Homo sapiens: one gene and its partners. The protein of the gene in region 2 purifies or fractionates together with the protein of the main gene of each other region. This does not show direct contact. Each region holds a gene or a part of one and is shown on either strand. Other genes may lie near its edges. The genes, in order: FBXO22, SIK1, DSG3 and APOBEC3A.

Region 1 (5,318 bases), on a different chromosome or scaffold from region 2:
TTGACCTGACCACCCTCTTCCACATTATTAAGAGGTTCCCGGCTGAGTCTTTGCTGCTAATGCCTCTTGTTCTGTGCTTCCCCTCCCATCCACCAATGACTTGCAAGTTTTTTTTTTTTTTCCACATTGTCAGGGATAGTTGTAAAAACTAGTCTCAATGTGTATACCCCCTTTTTTTCCTCATCAGTAAAACAAATTTTACCTTTGCTGCTACACAATTTTTTACTCCAGCTGGTTTAAGTCCCATTTCAAATAACAGAGGTTTATCTCTATAGGCTGGCTGATCTATGCAAAAATGAGGTGTTACCACTGAATAGTTTTTATGCCAACAGTGATTTTTAATGAATGAAGTGAATTCAATCAGTCCATCTGCAGATGTAGATAAAAGGCTAAACGCTGCTTTCCTTGAGTAATTCGTTTGTTGTTTACTATATTAAGTTAAGCTTTCCCATCCAAGCTTAGACATTAAGCCAACCCTTTACCTCTTCAAATTCACTTCAGGGCTCCATCCACACTACCTGCAGGATGTTTCCCAGCACACCCCTTGCTTGATAGACTTGCCTTAACTCATATATTTCCTAAGACTCATCAGGGTCACTTTACTTGTTCCCATCTTTCTAATTAGTTCACAAAGAACTAACCCGCGTATTCTAAAAACTTCTAAAATGCTTGTTACTAGAATAAAAAAGGTTAACAAAACAAAAATAGAGCAAAATGAAATAAACTATTAGAGCAAGAATTCCTTAAAATTCAGAACTAAATACAAACAAGTTTATCATCAACAGAGTATTTATGAAAAATTTTTCATCTCTGGTTCTCTTGGGCTTTAATGCAAGTAAAATAATTTAAAAAGTAAATCAATTCTACCAAACATGTATCACACTGGCCTCTGTGAATCACCTGTTTGAATTAGCCACATCTCCAGTGACAGGTGTACTTAATTCAGATTCTCCCAAAGGAACCTAATATCCACCAACTAGCCAGAATTAAAAAGAAAACAAAATTAATCAATAAAATGAGCAGTTAATGATAAATAAAAGTAACTTACCTACTTCAGTGAGTTGATGTCTTTCTAATGTTAAATTCTTTGGATCCTTAATAAAATGAAAGGGTTGTATTTTTATTCCTTCAATTTGAGGGAATAATAAAGCAAAACCAGATTCTCCAATTTCTATTTCCTGAGGTCGATTGCTACCTGATCCCATTGGAGTCACTAGAGAAAAAGTTAAACAGTTTCACCAATAGAGTCAGTAAAAACTAGATAACTACAGTTTAGGTCACTAAGATAATCATTAAGCTAACAAGCCACTATCTGAGTAAAAGTTTTTCAGCTTTGACAGTTTTAGGGTGTAGTGTCATGATGTTTGCCATTTAACTTTCAAATGGTTCAGAAAGAAATTTTTTATAAGCAAAGTGAGAAAAAATAAATGTTGCAAAATTTTTTCAACTGCTAAACTAGATAAAGGGTATATGGGTATTTATCATGCTGTTCTATTATTCTTTCAACTTCTCCATATTTTTCAAATTAAAAAGTTGGGGGGGTAGTAAATACACTTTCACAGCAATTCCAATTTTTAAAAGTTTACCCTAAAAATATTTGACAATTATATAAAGTATATATATACCCAAGTATTTTATCACATAATTTCAAATAGAAAATAAAAAGAAAAAACCTGAATGTCCCACACTGGTATTCAGATTAAAAGTTACATTGGTATCATAGAATATAGCCATTAAAATGATGACAAATATATATTTATAGACATGGAAATATGTTTGTAATATGCTCTGAATTTTACAGGTAGATATTACAGATTGAACTGTGTCATTCCCTCCCTACTGCCTACCCCAAATTCATGTTTAAGCCCTAACCCCCCATGTGACTATATTTGGAGATAAGGCCTTTAAAGAGATAGTTAAGATTAAATGAGGTCACAAGGGTAGGACCCTAATCCAACAGGACTAGTGTCCTGAGAAGAGGAGGAAGAGACACCAAGCATGCTTATGTATGAAGAAAAGGCCACATGAGAACACAGTGAGAGAGCAGCTGTAAGTAAGCTTCAGAGAGACCATCCCCGATCTTGGACTTCTAGCCTCCCAAACTGTGAGAAAATAAGCTTCCGTTGTTTAAGTCACCCAGTCTGTGGTATTTTGTTATGGTAGCCCTAGTAGACTAACACAGTAGGTTACAAGTCTACAGAAAATTGTATTCTGGTTTTTTATATTTACATACATATATAAATAGAGGTTAACATCATAAGAGTGGTTAACTCTGTGGTGCTTAAAGGTGCTTTTGCTTATCTGAATCTTCTAATTTTTTTTTTCTAAAAATAACTATTACTAGTATAAAAAAAGAAATAAACTTTTTTTTTTTTTTTTTTTTTTTTGGAGACAGAGTCTTACTCTGTCACCCAGGCTGGAGCGAAGTGGTGCAACCTCTGCCTCCCGGTTTCCAGCAATTCTCCTGCCTCAGCCTCCCAAGTAGCTGGAATTACAGGCATGAGCCACCATGCCCAGCTAATTTTAGCTTTTTTTTTTTTTTTGAGACAGAGTCTTGCTCTATCATCCAGGATGGAGTGCAATGGCGTGATCTCGGCTCACTGCAACCTCTGCCTCCCGGGCTCAAGCAATTCTCCTGCCTTAGCCTCCTGAGCAGCTGGGATTACAGGTGCCCGCCATCATGCCTGGCTAATTTTTGTATTTTTAGTAGAGATGGGGTTTCACCACGTCGGCCAGGCTGCTCTTGAACTCCTGACCTCATGATCCACCCACCTCGGCCTCCCAAAGTGCTGGGACCACAGACGTGAGCCACTGCGCCTGGCCAATTTTTACATTTTTTAGTAGAGATGGGGTTTTGCCATGTTGGCCAGGCTGGTCTCCAACTCCTGACTTCAAGTGATCCGCCTGCCTCGGCCTCCTAAAGTGCTGGGATTACAGGTGTCAGCCACCACGCCAGGCCAAAAAGAAATAAACTCTTTTTTTTAAAAAAATGTTAAGCCCTTTAGAAACCACAGCTAGAGCAACTGAACAAATAATATTCATTTGTAAACATGTAAAATTCTTTTTACCTCACTGTATAAGACTCAAATTCAGATCAAAAATCTTTCAGTGAAGATTAAAAATGACAATTCTCAGTAGAGTACTACTGAGTTGGAACAAAAAAACATAACAGCAGCCAGGTGCAGTGGCTCATGCCTGTAATCCCAGCACTTTGGGAGGCTGAGGCGGTGGATCACCTGAGGTCAGGAATTTGAGACCAGCCTGGCCAACATGGTGAAACCCGGTTTCTACTAAAAATACAAAAATTAGCCAGGTGTGGTGGTGGCGGGCGCCTGTGATCCCAGCTACTTGGGAGGCTGAGGCAGGAGAATTGCTTGAATCCAGGAGGCAGAAGTCGCAGTGAGTAGAGATCACGCCATTGCACTCCAACCTTGGTGACAAGAGTGAAACTCCATCTCAAAAACAATACATAAATGACAGCTAACATTTACTTACTGCTTTGTGTATCTCTATTGTAAATGCTTTACAAGTGTTAACTCATTTAATTCTCACAACCCTCCAAGGAAGGTACTACTGTCATCATCCCCACTTCCTTGATGAGGACAGTGAAGCCCCATGAAGTTAGGTAACTTGCTCAAAGTCATACAGATACTAAGCGGTACAGCCGGCATTCGAATCCAGGTATCTAACCATTGCACCATTACTGCCTCAACAGAATCTCTCCTCCCCCAGTTAACTACAGAAAAGAATCAAAAATAATAAAAACCAGCAAAAATTCACCAGCAGCAATCAAGCATGGAAAGGGGCACAACCTCATGCTGTAAACATTGAAGAGTGGTACCAAAGCAGAGAAACAGAAGTCTCCTAGTAAGGCCCAGCTTTGCTCCTAATCCCAGCCCCATCTCACCCCTACCCACCAAACACAATACTGCTTGAACTGACAAAACTCTGAAAATGCCCACAAATACTTCCTAATTTGGAGGAAGGCAGAATGAGATCATTCCCCTCTTATGAATGACTACTGGATATTTATACAGGTAACCTTGAGATGAGAAGTACAATAACTTAATAAACATTAATATAAGGCAAATATAATGCCATGGTAAATATGACTGACTTTATTGTATTTTAGATGGACAGAAATAGAAATGTGGTTCTAAGCTAAAAATAACTCACCAATCCAAAGGACCCCACATTAATGCAAGGAAGAAATCATCAAGTTGCTAATTTATCTCACCTACAATTCCTGGGGTCACAATCCCAAGGACTTGGCATTGTTTGGGGAATAGCTTCTCAAGGGCAAGTGCTGTTTCCATACTAGTTCTTTTCCTTGCTGTAAAAATACAGTAGCAAAATGATAAATATCATCCATTTAAAGTCAAATCTGAGAATGAAAAAGTAAAAAAGCAAATACTGGAAATATTTAAGTCATTTAACACGAGAATGCTCTAAATAAAGGTCTAAAAGCATTGATTAAAACAAACACTTTACCTGTTTTGGTCCTGGCTTTTAAATTATAAATCTGATCTTTTGCACCACTAGTCTGCCTTTCCCCTCTGTTCATATATTGCTTTTGCCCCAGTGATGTCAAATTTAGCAGTAACAGCTGAATTTTAGACTTGCTATTGTACCTTTCTGTTCAGCTGATATTGCAGTATAACTACTATTTGCATCAACAGTCACCTGGATCAAATTAGACAATGAGAATCCATTATCTAAGTCTAACTTGGGACCTGAGTGTGCGCATCTTGGATACCCATTCTGCCTTTTCCCTCAGCAAGCCAAAAATGCACCATTTCTCTACATAACTTTAGTAAATGGGACCTCATGTTCCAATACAGTAAAAGGCCTGAATAGCCAAGTCATACAACCTGTTTTAATAATAAAAAGTGCCTGGAGAATTAAAGCATCTCAAATTGAGAACAACACCTTTCTAACGAATTTGTTTCAATTGCACTACAAGGTTTAGAAATCAATCTGAAGCAGAAAGGGTTCCTCAAGGTTCAAAGATAGATATATTGATGCATACTACAGGTGGCAGTCCCAGAGCCTCAGAAAGTCAGTTAACTCTCAGGACAAGTATAATATTGAACTCCGAACGGAAGGCACATGATAAAAAAACAGAAGCAAAAGCTTTTCTTTTGATATTTACCTCTCTTATGGCCACGACACTCTTCCAGACTAATGAAAGTTTCTGAATCAGCCATGTAAAGAACTGTATGTGGTAAGATGCGAACATTCTGCAAAGAAAAAAAAAAAATTGGAATTGGATCCCATGAATCCATCAGTGCTTCTGCATAGTCCCTTGAAGTATCACC
Region 2 (5,318 bases):
GTGAACCTAAGTGGTTCTCTGTGTGGTGGACACAAAGTGTGGCAGCCCCCAGGGTCTGGATCCCTGGCTGATGGCTCCCCTTGGGTGGCAGGACTGAGCCGATGGCCCGGCCCCTGCTCCTGGGCCCTGGCGTGTCAAACCACGTGGGGCGGTGGGTGGGAGCGCAGCCGAGGTCCCGGCCGCCCTGGCTCAGCCTCCTGGCCCCTCCACAGACTGTGAGAGCCTGATCCGCCGCATGCTGGTGGTGGACCCCGCCAGGCGCATCACCATCGCCCAGATCCGGCAGCACCGGTGGATGCGGGCTGAGCCCTGCTTGCCGGGACCCGCCTGCCCCGCCTTCTCCGCACACAGCTACACCTCCAACCTGGGCGACTACGATGAGCAGGCGCTGGGTATCATGCAGACCCTGGGCGTGGACCGGCAGAGGACGGTGGAGGTGAGCCTGGCCACACTTGCCCTGGCCTCACCCGCAGGGGCTAGGCAGCTGTCTCAGGGGAAGCAGGCACTCACCAGCTGAGTTAAAACGGGAGCACAGGCTAATTTAGGGGCCGGCTTGTCCACCCCACTAAAGGATATTCTCAGTCACCCAAGAATAACCTGGGATCGGGTGGGCCCTGGGGCTCCCCGCCATCCCCATGCTGATCTCTGCTCCTCTTGTTCCCAGTCACTGCAAAACAGCAGCTATAACCACTTTGCTGCCATTTATTACCTCCTCCTTGAGCGGCTCAAGGAGTATCGGAATGCCCAGTGCGCCCGCCCCGGGCCTGCCAGGCAGCCGCGGCCTCGGAGCTCGGACCTCAGTGGTTTGGAGGTGAGGGGGAGGAGTCTCCTCCCAGGCCCCAGGCTCCCTCCCCTGTCAGGCACCGGCTTGGAGGGCGGTTCCTTGCGTGGGCAGTGGGTCCCAGGCCTCGTGGGGAAGGGGGTGCCAGCTGCTGGGGGCTGGACTCTGCCCAGAGGCCACTTGTCCCTGACTCATCCCTGGGGCCGGCCTGTCACGCCACCTTCTGGCAGCGCAGCACCAGCACCTGGTCCTGAGCCCAGCCTGGCCAGCCAGTGTCCCTCCGTCAGCTGTCATGCCCACCAGCGAGGCAGCTTGCACTCCAGACAGAAGCCAGCTTGTTTCTTCTCTTGATGGCGCTGGTGGTCCGGAGTCGCTCCCCTGACAGCGTCTTTCCCGTCTGCCGGCCCCAGGTGCCTCAGGAAGGTCTTTCCACCGACCCTTTCCGACCTGCCTTGCTGTGCCCGCAGCCGCAGACCTTGGTGCAGTCCGTCCTCCAGGCCGAGATGGACTGTGAGCTCCAGAGCTCGCTGCAGTGGGTGAGTGCCCACAGCGGGTGTGCAGAGGGCTCGCCTCAGCCCAGCCCTGGTGCCCCCGGTGTGCCCGGGTCACCTGGAGTCCGAGAAGTCACTGGCTTGTGTCTCTCCAACGCAGCCCTTGTTCTTCCCGGTGGATGCCAGCTGCAGCGGAGTGTTCCGGCCCCGGCCCGTGTCCCCAAGCAGCCTGCTGGACACAGCCATCAGTGAGGAGGCCAGGCAGGGGCCGGGCCTAGAGGAGGAGCAGGACACGCAGGAGTCCCTGCCCAGCAGCACGGGCCGGAGGCACACCCTGGCCGAGGTCTCCACCCGCCTCTCCCCACTCACCGCGCCATGTAAGTGTCCCCGGGGGCCCAGGAGGACACCGGTGGATAGGCTTACGGTCGACGTGAGGGTGGGCTAATTTAGAATGGACGTTTTGCCCGGCAGCCTCTCAGGTTGGACTTCTCAGGATTTGCCATTTGTTTTAATCCCTGAGACCACACAGTTGATGTTTAGAGCCTGCCCTGCATGTGGTCGTTCCAGTGGAGGATACAGCATGGGGTCTGGCCTCCAGCAGGGTCCTCCCCAGGCCGCCCCTGGGTGCCGGGAGGGCAGCCCCTTGGCCTGAGGCCCACTATGACCTGCCCCCTGCAGCTGCACCGTGATGGTGGCTTGCCTTTGTGGCTCCCTGGGCTCTGGTGGCCTCGAGCCCTCTTCCCACCAGGTTGATGGTGGGGATGGGGAGGCCAGCGCAGCCATGTGTGCCCAGCAGTGGCCGGGGGAGCCTATTCCTTTGCACTGCAGCATCAAAAGCGCTGTCCTCCCCCCACAGGTATAGTCGTCTCCCCCTCCACCACGGCAAGTCCTGCAGAGGGAACCAGCTCTGACAGTTGTCTGACCTTCTCTGCGAGCAAAAGCCCCGCGGGGCTCAGTGGCACCCCGGCCACTCAGGGGCTGCTGGGCGCCTGCTCCCCGGTCAGGCTGGCCTCGCCCTTCCTGGGGTCGCAGTCCGCCACCCCAGTGCTGCAGGCTCAGGGGGGCTTGGGAGGAGCTGTTCTGCTCCCTGTCAGCTTCCAGGAGGGACGGCGGGCGTCGGACACCTCACTGACTCAAGGTGAGCCACGCTCCTCCCACACTTACCTCCACCTTCCCCAGGGGACCATGTGTGTCTCTGGCAGTACGTGACTTTGTCCGTGATGGCAGATGGCACCCCCTGTTCTCCACCGGGCCTGGGTGGGACCCTCAGTGCTCTGGGCAGGCTGGGGTGCTCAGTGCTCTGGTGGCTCGGGGCGTCACGGCCTGCTGGGATAGACACACATGGGTCCCTGAGCACGCGGCCTCCATGGCTGGTTCTGAAAGCACAGGAGACGACTCTGTGCTGGGCAGCACCTCCCGACTTGGAGGAGGGAGGGCCCCTGGCTGCCGGCTGCCTCCACGCCATCCTGGGGCTTAGGTGCCAGACTCCTGTCCAGACGTGCTTGTGTCACCCGTCCTTTCCTTACCCCCAACCTGAGGCTTGGAAACCCCTTAAGCCAAGGGCCGTGGATGCTGGGCTGAGAGCCGGGTGGCCGTTGACCTCCTGATTCATTCTCCCTGCAGGGCTGAAGGCCTTTCGGCAGCAGCTGAGGAAGACCACGCGGACCAAAGGGTTTCTGGGACTGAACAAAATCAAGGGGCTGGCTCGCCAGGTGTGCCAGGCCCCCGCCAGCCGGGCCAGCAGGGGCGGCCTGAGCCCCTTCCACGCCCCTGCACAGAGCCCAGGCCTGCACGGCGGCGCAGCCGGCAGCCGGGAGGGCTGGAGCCTGCTGGAGGAGGTGCTAGAGCAGCAGAGGTAGGGCCTGCCCCCGCCCTGGGACCCCGGGTGGGCACACGGCAGGTTATCTCCTCGAGGAACCTCATCTGCTAAGTGGTTCCCTCCTCTCTGTAGCCCAGTGCACACCCCCGCTCCCAGCCAGGGAGATGTGTGGGGCGTAGGTCCTAGGTGCTGAGCCATGGGGGTGCAGCAGGCGGGCGTGTCCTTTAAAGTCCCTGGGTGGGTGAGGGTGGCGGGGAGCGAGGGCGCCTTGTGGCCGCATCTCTGAGCTGCTGAGAAACCGGGTGGAGAATGAAAGGTGGGGCGCGGTCAGGGATCAGCCACGCACCTGCCCTCGGCAGCCGCGGCTGGCAGCTCCTCGGGCGGGCCCTGCCACACGGGCACTCGGAAACCCGAGAACCCTGCGAGCCGGCGCAGTGACCACCTGTCCTCTGTTCCCACAGGCTGCTCCAGTTACAGCACCACCCGGCCGCTGCACCCGGCTGCTCCCAGGCCCCCCAGCCGGCCCCTGCCCCGTTTGTGATCGCCCCCTGTGATGGCCCTGGGGCTGCCCCGCTCCCCAGCACCCTCCTCACGTCGGGGCTCCCGCTGCTGCCGCCCCCACTCCTGCAGACCGGCGCGTCCCCGGTGGCCTCAGCGGCGCAGCTCCTGGACACACACCTGCACATTGGCACCGGCCCCACCGCCCTCCCCGCTGTGCCCCCACCACGCCTGGCCAGGCTGGCCCCAGGTTGTGAGCCCCTGGGGCTGCTGCAGGGGGACTGTGAGATGGAGGACCTGATGCCCTGCTCCCTAGGCACGTTTGTCCTGGTGCAGTGAGGGCAGCCCTGCATCCTGGCACGGACACTGACTCTTACAGCAATAACTTCAGAGGAGGTGAAGACATCTGGCCTCAAAGCCAAGAACTTTCTAGAAGCGAAATAAGCAATACGTTAGGTGTTTTGGCTTTTTAGTTTATTTTTGTTTTATTTTTTTCTTGCACTGAGTGACCTCAACTTTGAGTAGGGACTGGAAACTTTAGGAAGAAAGATAATTGAGGGGCGTGTCTGGGGGCGGGGGCAGGAGGGGAGCGGGGTGGAGGGAACACGTGCAGTGCCGTGGTGTGGGGATCTCGGCCCCTCTCTCTGGGTTCGTCGTGGTTGAGATGATTACCTCGGACGTCTACGGAAACGAGCGGGCGCATTGTTGTCCGCTTGTGTGTGTGTGTGTGTGTGTGTGTGTGCGCGTGCATTGATTACTATCCATTTCTTTAGTCAACGCTCTCCACTTCCTGATTTCTGCTTTAAGGAAAACTGTGAACTTTCTGCTTCATGTATCAGTTTTAAAGCAGCCCAGGCAAAGATCATCTACAGATTCTAGGAATTCTCTCCCCTGAAATCAAAACCTGGAAGACTTTTTTTTCTTATTTTAGTTGAGAAGTTTCATAAACTGCTCAAGGATTAGTTTTCCAGGACTCTGCGGAGGAACGGCAGGAAGAACCTCAGAGAGGGCAGAGGTGACTTCAAAGTGCTGGGGACTCCGTCCTGAGGGTCACTTGGCCCTGAGCCCCTGCGTGCCCTTGCGGAAGCCCAGAAGCTTCTTCCTGCTGCACCTCCCGTTTCCGCTGCTGCTGACGTTTATGCATTTCATGATGGGGTCCAACAAGAACACCTGACTTGGGTGAAGTTGTGCAATATTGGAGGCTGACTGTAGGGCTGGGCAGCTGGGAGACAGGCTCATGGCTCATGGCTCATGGCTCAGGGCGGTGCCTGCCCTGGGCCGGGACCCCCCTCCCCACCCCCCACCTAGGCTTTTTGGGTTTTGTTCAAGGAAGGTAAAGTGAGAGGTTTAGGTCAGTGTTTTTAAGTTTTTGTTTTTTTTTTAAAGCAAATCCTGTATATGTATCTACATGGGAGACAGGTAGACACTACTTATTTGTTACATTTTGTACTATACGTTTGTGTTCCAGGTTTCAGCTTCCCTCGCTCCTGTTGTTAAGAAGCGTCCCTGTCAGCACAGGTGTGCATTGAGGAAGGGGCCCCAGGGCCTTCGCTCCCTCAGCACTGGGGTGGAGGCGGCAGGAAGGGGCGGCCCTTACCTGGCAGGTCTGGGCGCACCTTTAGCAGGTGGACTCCGTGGGGCTCCACCAGCCAGAAGCCTCTGGAAGGCAACGAAGGCAATGCTGCTCCCTGAGTCCAGTCCCCGCCCCCAAACCCAGCCCAGGTGCCTT
Region 3 (5,318 bases), on a different chromosome or scaffold from region 2:
GATCGATTCCCACTCCAGAGATTCGGTAGGTGATTTTCTGGGTTGCTTGGTAATCTGAAGTAATCTACAGCCCCAAATACCAAAAACGTTGAGGTGACCATCACTCAAGCCTTTCCCTCTCCACCCCCACTTCCATAGTCTAAAGTCATCTGTTCATTCGATTCACTCTTTTTGACATTGTGCCATTTACTTTTTGCCTTGATAGATACTAGGAATATGAAATAAAATCAAACCGTTGTTTTTGACAACCAGCCTGAACCAATGATGTGCACTAATCATTTTAGTGTTAGAATATTTGCTCAGACTGTGGCCACATGATAGTGTTAAAATGTTAAAAGAAAGTCAAAGTCATTTAATATTGACAAGGCTACTCCTGAAGGCTCCCTCTTTACCTGACAACATTAAAAAACAAAAGATATTTATTTAGTTTAAATAGGGGGAAGTGGAGAGACAAAAAGGGAAAGAGATTGTATGGTAGGGTTAAAATATGTATTAAAATAATTTACTTATTATTATTGTAATTTTAAAGCTTTTTAACATGAAAAATGTGAAATATATGTAAAGTTAGAACAGTATAACAGGCTGGGCGTGGTGGCTCATGCCTGTAATCCAAGCACTTTGGGAGGCCGAGGTGGGCAGATCATGAGGTCAGAAGTTCGAGATCAGCCTGGCCAATATGGTGAAACCCCGTCTCTACTAAAAATACAAAAACAATTAGCCGGGCATGGTGGCACACGCCTGTAATCCCAGCTACTCAGGAGGCTGAGGCAGGAGAATTGCTTGAACCTGGGAGGAGGAGGTTGCAGTGAGCTGAGATCGCGCCACAGCACTCCAGCCTGGGAGGCACAGTGACTCCATCTCAGAAAAAGAAAGAAAGAAAGAAAGAAAGAAAGAAAGAAAGAAAGAAAGAAAGAAAGAAAGAAGAAAGAAAGAAAGAAAGAAAGAAAGAAAGAAAGAAAGAGAAAGAAAGAAAGAAAGAAAGAAAGAGAATAGTATAATAAACCTGATACATCCTATCACTGAGCTTCAACAGTTATCAATACATGACCAATCCATATTTTGCTCCCAACCATTTCTGTCTTATACATGCATTATTTTTCCTATTTGTTTGCTAGACTCTGTATCCAAGTAAGCCTTCTATATTAAAATTGGTCAATATGTCTCAATTCTTTGTCTCAATTCTTTTTCATAACCCTAGAAGCTACCTTCCTTTCTCTCTTTCTCTCATTATTATTATTATTGTACTATTTTGTTGAGGATACCAGTTCACTTGTTCTGTGGACTCCCCAGTCTTCATTTTGTTATTTGGAATTGCCGTATTATTTTAATTTACACCTTATACATTTATTCTAAAAACTCATACGCTCCTGTTGATATAACTTACCTTGGCAATTGGGTTTCTTTTTGAGTTATCTTCTCCTTCTCTGCAGGGTTTGGCAAATTTCACCCATTCACGTTTTTGCCTTCTTTTAGCTTGTTGCATAGTCATCTCTTCTTCATCATATTGACCTTTAGTCTTATGTAAAAAGGGATTCCATTTGTTATGGAAATTAATGGCAATTTTTGCTTAGAATATTGATTACAGACACCTAGTTGAGGAACCCCCTATGTTTCAAGATCACTAAGACTGTTAGGTATCTAATTAGCTCTACCTGATACTTTGTCAAGCAAGTAATAAATGTTAAATAACTAAAATAACTACAAAGCTATGTGATTTTTAATATTAGCATTTAGTCGTATTTTATATTTTCTTTTTATACTCCACAGTATCTTACTGGGCCCATAGGGTTTGACCAGCTGATTTGTTTAAGATAAGAAGAAAAGAATGCATGAAATAAATTATAATAATGACATTTATGGATGACTAGTTTTAAAATATTGTTATCAGTTATTAGAATTTTAATTTTATATATTTTCACAATTAAATTATTGAATAATTTTAGAAATTAAATATTCATTTCTACTAAACACAATTTAATTTTTTTTTAAACTAAACTATTATTTTAAGTACAAAAACCTTTTTCATACTTTACCTCTATTCGCAATTCTCCATGAACCAATATGACCACCTGCAGACATTTAAATAAAGTCGAATTAAATGTGAATTCTTCAAATAAGGAATTATATACAATGAATAATCCTGATTATTATATTCTATTGTTCATATTGTGATTTGTTTCTATTTCAAAAGAAGTAAGTTTCAAGAAGCCATAATCAAAGGGTAAGTTCCTACCAGGAAAAGGAATATTACTGTCAATATAAACACATTCCACCAGTTTTTTAATTGACTACAGAATTTTGATGACATAAAGAAGAACCTATTGGACTTTGCAAAAACTATGCCTAATAGTCAGTTGCAGCAACCACACAATTCTTACCTGGCTGCTTTATACACCGTTCCTGGAAGCTATGAAAGTCATTGCTTTGGGAAACATTGGTAAGCACCATTGTGAAATGCTTCAGAAAGGGGCCACAGGGGATTATTAAAAACCTTCAGCCACCCAACTGATTTGTAGGAAGGCAATCCTGTATTAGTCCTCTACAATTACAGAACATTTTCTTTAATTGTACAAGTGAAAAGAATGGAATGGAACCAGTCTGGTTTAGAGAACAAAACGTAAAAGATGAGGATATGCTATTCCAATCACAAACCCTGTTTGCAGTGAGACATGGATCTGTTCATCTCTGCTCTATTACTTCAATTTAAATATTGAACTTAATTTTCAGAGTGGCCCCAAAAAATTAAATGACAGTAAAATGAAGCCATGTAGGCTAGGGTCTTCACCTTCTCAAGAGCATATGAGACATTCATCTGTGTCATTTTTCATCTTCTGTTCTGCCTGGCATGCATTACCTCTTTCTACTCCACCCACTTAAATATTGCTCATCCTTCCAGATCCATCAAGTTCCAACAACCTCCATGAAATTGTCTTTACTGATGTCTCTTTTTCTGAGTTTGTACAACACATATTCTGTACCATGAAATTTAGCCCATGATGGTTTACCACAGTTTATTATTTCTTGTTTTATGCACATGAAAGAATTTCTGTGCTAAGCCAGGAGTATTGTAAACTTTCCAGTTCAGTGCTATTAGGTTATTTTTTTTTTCTTGTAACCCTCACAGGTGCTTAACAAGTATTTGCTAATCCACTGATTATCGGATGAATCTGGTCGGAAAATAATGGTGGAAAATAAGTCAGAAGAAAAAAAAAACTAGAAGAGTAATAACAGTAGCTAATGTTTATTGTGTAGTTTCGGTATCAGCTGCTACTCCTAGAGCTTTATACTTACTGTTTTATGTAATACTTACAGCAGGCACCTGAAGGAGATTCTAGTATTATAATCCCTAGTATACAGATGAAGAATTGGAGATGCAAGGGAATGAATACTTTGCCCTAGCTAATGGCCATAATAGGATAGCGACCGCAGTAGCCTAACTCCAGAGCATGTACCTCACTACTACTAAATTCTTTTTTTTTTTTTTTTTGAGACGGAGTTTCGCTCTTTTTGCCCTGGCTGGAGTGCAATTTTTGCCCTGGCTGGAGTGCAATGGTGCGATCTTGACTCAATGTAAGCTTCGTCTCCCGGGTTCAAGGGATTCTCTTGCCTTAGCCTCCCGAGTAACAGGGATTACAGGCATGGGCACACCACCACACCCGGCTAATTTTGTATCTTTAGCAGAGACGGAGTTTCACCATGTTGGTTAGGCTGGTCTCGAACTCCTGACCTCAGGTGATCCACCCGCCTTGGCCTCCCAAAGTGCTGGGATTACAGGTGTGAGCCAACTACTGCTAAATTCTAACCAAAGTTGTCATAAAGAGAAAAAAAAAAAAAACAAACTAATGGTACAAAGAAAATTATATGACAGTCAATTTAGATTTCTATTTGGCAAAAGACTATGGTTGCTCTTGAAACAATGTAGATTGTTTATTTTCTAGGGTTATAATGAATAGACTAGTCCAAGTCTGAACCAAATGAGTAATTATGTCAGACATAAGATGTCAGGACTCTTCCCTTCTAGACATTCCAGCTGAAACCTTGATTCCAAAGAGTGCGTGTTCAAATTTGTCATGGAAAAGAACCATTACTTGTGGTTATAACATGTCTCAAAATTATTTTCCAACATTGTTGCTCTTTTTAAAGCAGTACCTTGAGTTACTTGGTAGAAAAGACCAGATAAATGTAGTAACTGCACAATTCCTTTCTCAGCGCATAAAAATGACTCAGCTACACATGAGAGGAGGGATGGGCCAGGCAGGCTCCCCTTTACAGGAAAACTGGAGAGTCATCCCGAAAATATGAATCATGCTTGGACTAGCCCTACAGAGAATGATTCTTCTAATACACAATAAGGTAGAATATTTGTTTTCCCAGGAAGTAGGTGATGGGAAACATTTCTGAATATTGCAATGATCTTCAGATTTTTAGAGGACAGCACAGCCTTACATTATTTAGAATAGTATTTTTTTAAAAAAATTATTTTAGTTAATATTTATATAATGGCTACTTGTTTTAGTTAATTTGCTAATATAATAATTTTGGACATTTTAAAAACAATTTATGTGTTTTTATTTGTAAATCTATTTTCATTGACAAAATTGTATATATTTATCATGTACATGTTGTTTTGAGATATGTATAAACTGTGGAATGACTAAATCAAGCCAATAAATATTTACATAGTTTTCTGACGATTTGAATGAACTAAGTTGTCTCTTTTGGTGGCCTGGATTGGAAATACCAACATGGAGAAAACCTCCCTTATCTTGAGAATTACTGTACTTTTCTTTCTTTTTGTTTTCTGGTTATTTTGTAAATTTTAATTATATGATTTTTAAAGCATTGATATAGCCTTAGTGCCTTGGTATAGATATGAATTACAAATATTATCAAAAGCAAATCTAATTATTAAATTTAAAAAATATATGAAATAAAGCAATTTGATATCCATATGCTCTATTTGTTAATAAAAATGTATATGGTTGTATCACTAAGGTTCCTATTGAATATGGTATGTACACAATAAATATAATCTGAGGATATGGGTAGCTAGATTAAACAAAAAGCAAGTATAATAGCACCTGCTCTTTAGTTTGGCCGAGATCTTGTTTGGGGTTACCTCATGCTTTAGTGTGGCAGGGGACAGAACATAAGACTATGGATTAGATGCAGGTAGCTCATCCCAGCCAGGCCTAGGGCCTGACTACACTTCTGATTTCTAGAATGGGGATTCTTGGGGAAATTTGTAGAATGAATTAGATAATTCAAATAAATCAGTCCAAATTTTAAACATGATTTTGTATTTATTAAATTTTTTT
Region 4 (4,894 bases), on a different chromosome or scaffold from region 2:
GTTAGGACTGTTATCAAACCCAGAGACACAAGCAAAGGGCAGCTTTGACAAGCCGGTCCCTCCCGCACCCGCCCCTGCGTGGGAAATGCCAAAGTCCTCTGCTCAGGGCGGGGCTGGGGTGCGCCCCGGAGTGCTCTGGGGCACCTGGAGGAGGTTTCTTTGTGTGAAGTCTCTGTCACTGTGTGTGGGTGTGTGTGTGTATGTGTTTTGTGCATGTGTTGTGTGTGTATGTGTTGTGTGTGTTGTGTGTATGTGTGTCTTGTGTGTGTTTGTGTGTTGTGTGTGTCTAGGCCAGGGAAACAGTGAGTCGTTTCTGCCCAGGAGCAGCTGCATGTGAGGCCCGTTCTTGGTCTTATATGCGGCTTCTGAGGACTTTCCAGAAATCGTGAGGTGGGAGCCGCCGCTGTAATCAGGCATATAAGTCACACATCCCAGAGTTGGGAACCAGCGCAGAAGGCCCAGGACAGACGCCAAGCTGAAGCCACAGCCCTGACACCTGCCGCCCTAGCCCTGGGCTCCGTCTCTGCCTCTGGAGCCTCCTGTCCCCGGGACTCAGCTCCCCTCCCCTCTGTGGCTGGGCTCTGCCTCCTGGGCTGCTCCTCTCCCCAGCCCTCTCTTTGGGCCCAGCCTAGACACCTGCCCCCTCCCTGGGCTCCTTCCCCCGACTGGGCCTGTCCTGGGTCTCAGCCATGGCCTCCCCTGGGCTCCCTCTCTAGGGGGGTGGAATCAGGAAGGGGTGGACAGAGGGCGGCTCCCGAGGGCCCCTGACTGCACGTTTGTGGTTCCTTTCCAACAGGGAGACTGGCTGCTGGCTGTCCTCTTACTGCTGGGCCTGTCCCTTCCAATCAGCGCCCGGGGCTCTGTAAGTGAGGGTGGGCGGGGCTCTGTGAGTGAGGGTGGGGTCTGCATTTAGGTTCCTCTCCTGTGAGGTTTAGCTGAGTTTTCTGGATCCAGAGGGATGTTGTGTGACCTTTCCCCGCTACAGGTCCGCTACACAAGGAAAGACATCTACACATTTGCTAGTGTTTGTGGAAACTCTTGCAATTCATGACACAGTTACTGAGCAAAAGCAATTATGGAAGATTCTTAATTTTGTGTTAGTCTAGATATGAAGCCAAATTATCATTTCATTTCATTAATACATTGAAAATTATTCTGAGAATATTGAGCATAATCTTACTATTGTGTACTTGGAACATAAGAGAAATTTTCAGTTAAAATTAATTCAGTCTGGTTTTTTTTTTTTTGAGATGGAGTCTGGTACTGTCGCCCAGGCTGGAGTGCAGTAGCGCAATCTCGGCTCACCGCAAGCTCTGCCTCCCGGGTTCACGCTACTCTCCTGCCTCAGCCTCCAGAGTAGCTGGGACTACAGGCGCCCGCCACCACGCCTGGCTAATTTTTTGTATTTTTAGTAGAGACAGGGTTTCACCGTGTTAGCCAGGATGGTCTCGATCTCCTGACCTCGTGATCCACCCGCCTTGGCCTCCAAAGTGCTGGGATTACAGGCGTGAGCCACCGCGCCCGGCCCACTCTGATTTTTTAAAAATCTACTTGATCGGGAGCATACTGCTTTGCTGGCGTCTGTGAGCAGCTGGAGATGGTGGTGAACGGTCTGTTTGCATTTCTTGGAAGAAGATCTTTTATTCTGCTGCTCAACCCAGGTCTCTGCCTTCCTTAGAGACTGAGGCCCATCCTTCAGTTTCCCTGATTCTGGAAGAGCAGGGGGGTTGAATGGAGCAGGAGGTGAGAGAGTGGAAAGAGGGCACAGGGAGGTGGCCTGGGGACAGTGACAATGACGGGAGAGGAGGGAGGGATGCGGGAGGTGGGAAAGAGAAGGAGGCTGTGAGAAGGAAAGGGAGGGACGGAGCTGGGCGCCCTGTGGGGAGCAGGGAACCCAGAGGAGGCTCTGAGCAGAGGGGAAGGCAAGGCCCAGGGGAGTGGGGAGGAGGGGGAGGCCGATGGGGCACCGGGCAGAGGGAGGAAGCCCTCACCTGGAGAATGGCCCGCAGCCTCCCACTCAGGGCTTGGCTGTGCTCATCTAGTCCATCCCAGGGCTGGAAGGGACATCCCTGGTGGTCCACAAAGGTGTCCCAGCAGTGCTTAAATTCTGAAAAGGGACAGGGGAGATAAGTCACGCTCCCGCTGTGGGATCGGGGTGGCACCTAGGGCCCATGACTCTCAGGACAGACTTCCCACATCCTGGTTTCAGTCCCTCCTTTCCCTCTCCCTCCCCTAGGGACTTAGCTCCTTCATCAGGCAGTTCCTTCCCATTGGAATCTGGGCCAGCCCAGTTCTCATTCTTTCAGAAAGCCCCAAGTTCTGCTTCCACTTCCAGCCACTCTCCCTGCCCTCCCTGGGCCCACATCTCCTGGCCTGGCCTCTCTCTTCCCATCGACCCCAAAGTCAGGTCCCAGAGTCCAGCCATCGTTTCTGCAGGCAGCAGACCAAGGCCTTTCTCCTTTTCTTCCCAGGAACCTCTCCTGCCCCCACCCACCCCACCCCACCTGAACCTTCCATTCTTACCATCGTAGGTCATGATGGAGACTTGGGCCCCAGCATCCCGCAGCATTTGCAGTGCCTCCTTATATAGGGGGTCGTAATCATAGATGCGGGCAGCGAAGATACGCAGTCTCACGTGTGTGTTCTCCTGAAGGAACGCACGCACTTCCCCGGCACAGCCCCAGGAGAAGCAGGGGCTCCAGGAGATGAACCAAGTGACCCTGTAGATCTGGGCCGGGTCCAACTGCAAAGAAGGAACCAGGTCCAAGAAGCGCAGCTCCGCATGGCGGCCGTAAAAGCCACAGAGAAGATTCTTAGCCTAGAAAAGGAAACAGAGTGTGAGGTGATGTGTGGTGAACAGGGAGGGAGCGCCTGGACCAGGTGGGGCTGGGGAGGCGGGGGCCTCCAGCACGAAATTAGAGGGGTCACCAAAACCCCGGTTATTAGGATGCATGATTTTCTATGCAATATTAAAAATATCAGATGTTATGCAAAAATCCCAAGATAAGCAAAATGTTGCCCATTTAAATACAAACAGATCAGGAGCAATGAGGTTTTATTTTGCCCCAGCTCCACTATACACAGGACAGCACTCTCCTGCCAGGCTTTATTAAAATCTTTGCTTTTATTCATCATGATCTATTTGTATTAAATTTGCGTTTTAAAATATTGCATTAATTATTAAATTAAAATGTGTTTTCTCTAATTACTGAGCATTTGGAGCCCCCATCAATTTTGTACCCAAGGTCAGAGCCTTCAGGACCCTCACCCCAGACCCAGCCCTGCAGGGAGGGGCTACAGAGATGGGGGCAGGGAGGAGGGGCCGGCGGAGCCCCGAGGTCATTGGCCTGATGGCCCTGAGTGAGTGTGCTTCCTTCAAGGGGAGATTGACCTGCTCTACTCATCAACTCCCCTACTCCCATCCCATCTGTGGCCCATAATTCTAGAAGCTTCTATTCTGTGCCACAACCTGTGCTGAGCCCAAATGTGATATAGACTTAGGCCAAAATGAATTCCACCAAAAGTAGTGGGGAAGAGAAGACCAGCAGGACTCACTCCAACGTGGGAAGGTCCCTGTGACATGGTATAATTGTCATTATTTTGACTTATAGAAATATGGTATTTACTCCAAACTCCAGAGAAAAGGATTTTCCACTAAGACTAGGAATCGGTCAAGTTGGGGACAGCAGGGCAGCAAGGACTGTGATTGTGATGGGGACAAAGACAGGGAGGGACTCCATCAGCAGTGATGCAGGGTGGAGTGGATGACATGGTTTGTGCTGAGAAGGGGCTGTGGGTCGTTCCTGGGGGAGTCCCACTGCTTAGGCGGTGATGGAGACTGGCACCCTTGAAAGGATGTTCCAAGCAGTGTGTGTGGATCCAGCGAGGCCCACATTGAGCTCATAGAGCCCAGAGAAGGTCCCAGTTTCCAGCACCGGAGCCAAGCATTACCTGGTCTCTCCAGACAGAGGCTGTGCTGGGTAGGGGCCAGGGAAGAAAGTCCCCCGGGCTCAGGGCCCCTCAGCCTGGCCTGGCCCAGCTCCTCCCCAAATGCTGGACATCCCTGCATCCTGACATGGGACCTGTTCTGGCCTTGCTGTGGGCTCCACCCTGGGCAGGACAGGATCCCTGGTCAGCCTCTCCTGCCTCAGTCTCTCTCCGTGCAGGATGAAGCCCAGGAGAGGGCACTGGGGCATCCTGGCCTTGTGAGGTCAGGTAGGCCCTGAGTCCTCAGATCCCACATTGCTGAATTGTTCCTGGTGAGAGCTGTGTCTGTGAGGGGATCCTGGGAGGGTCCTCAGGAAGCACTTTGCCATTGGGCAGACTCAACCCCACCTGGGCATGGATAGTCACTGAAGCCGAAGTCTCCCCCCAACCCCAGGGCCAAGCAGCAGCAGCTGCAGGAAGCACAAGTGACAAACACTGCAGGAAACCACAAGTACAATCCGGAACCTTCTACCTATGAATGTCCCTGGATTGGAAGGGCCCTGCCCGGATTCGGATGGCTGGGTCGGTCACCTGGTTGTGTAGAAAGCCCCTGTGCTGGTCCATCTTGACCGAGGTGCCATTGTCCAGGCGCTCCACTTCGTAGCACAGGTAGGTCTTATGCCTTCCAATGCCATTGTTAAAGTTGGAAGTGAATATGTGTGGATCCATCAAGTGTCTGTGGACAGCCAGGGAAAAGACCAGAGGAGGAAGAGCCCTCCTGGACTGCCCTGCCTCCTCCTCCCTCCCCACACTTCCTCCCTTGCACCCCACCCTCCTTCCCCCTGCTCCGCACATCCCTTAGCACACTTCCAAACCTCCCCCTCTGACCCCTTCTATGGCTCACTGGGAGATCACTGCAGCCCTGGGGCCTGTCTAAGCCTTGTCAGGGTCTCCCCAGGGTCAGCTC

The links.
Region 1: the proteins of SIK1 (region 2) and FBXO22 purify together in Homo sapiens (affinity purification with mass spectrometry, with the first as the bait; one large-scale study listed by BioGRID). This does not show direct contact.
Region 3: the proteins of SIK1 (region 2) and DSG3 purify together in Homo sapiens (affinity purification with mass spectrometry, with the first as the bait; one large-scale study listed by BioGRID). This does not show direct contact.
Region 4: the proteins of SIK1 (region 2) and APOBEC3A purify together in Homo sapiens (affinity purification with mass spectrometry, with the first as the bait; one large-scale study listed by BioGRID). This does not show direct contact.

What each region holds. Positions count from the first base shown.
Region 1 is NC_000015.10:75,913,125-75,918,442, reverse strand, and holds part of FBXO22 (F-box only protein 22), read right to left. Parts: intron 5,241-5,318; coding exon 5,153-5,240; intron 4,334-5,152; coding exon 4,238-4,333; intron 1,214-4,237; coding exon 1,049-1,213; intron 1-1,048. UniProt on the Homo sapiens protein: Substrate-recognition component of the SCF (SKP1-CUL1-F-box protein)-type E3 ubiquitin ligase complex that is implicated in the control of various cellular processes such as cell cycle control, transcriptional regulation, DNA damage repair, and apoptosis.
Region 2 is NC_000021.9:43,415,352-43,420,669, reverse strand, and holds part of SIK1 (serine/threonine-protein kinase SIK1), read left to right. Parts: intron 1-212; coding exon 213-436; intron 437-664; coding exon 665-811; intron 812-1,191; coding exon 1,192-1,317; intron 1,318-1,432; coding exon 1,433-1,649; intron 1,650-2,128; coding exon 2,129-2,410; intron 2,411-2,895; coding exon 2,896-3,127; intron 3,128-3,552; coding exon 3,553-3,928; 3' UTR 3,929-5,318. UniProt on the Homo sapiens protein: Serine/threonine-protein kinase involved in various processes such as cell cycle regulation, gluconeogenesis and lipogenesis regulation, muscle growth and differentiation and tumor suppression. Phosphorylates HDAC4, HDAC5, PPME1, SREBF1, CRTC1/TORC1.
Region 3 is NC_000018.10:31,453,191-31,458,508, reverse strand, and holds part of DSG3 (desmoglein-3 preproprotein), read right to left. Parts: intron 2,070-5,318; coding exon 2,034-2,069; intron 1,517-2,033; coding exon 1,385-1,516; intron 65-1,384; coding exon 1-64. UniProt on the Homo sapiens protein: A component of desmosome cell-cell junctions which are required for positive regulation of cellular adhesion. Required for adherens and desmosome junction assembly in response to mechanical force in keratinocytes.
Region 4 is NC_000022.11:38,959,311-38,964,204, reverse strand, and holds the end of APOBEC3A (DNA dC->dU-editing enzyme APOBEC-3A), read right to left. Parts: intron 4,664-4,894; coding exon 4,519-4,663; intron 2,819-4,518; coding exon 2,524-2,818; intron 2,108-2,523; coding exon 1,992-2,107; intron 1,711-1,991; coding exon 1,696-1,710; 3' UTR 1,021-1,695; downstream 1-1,020.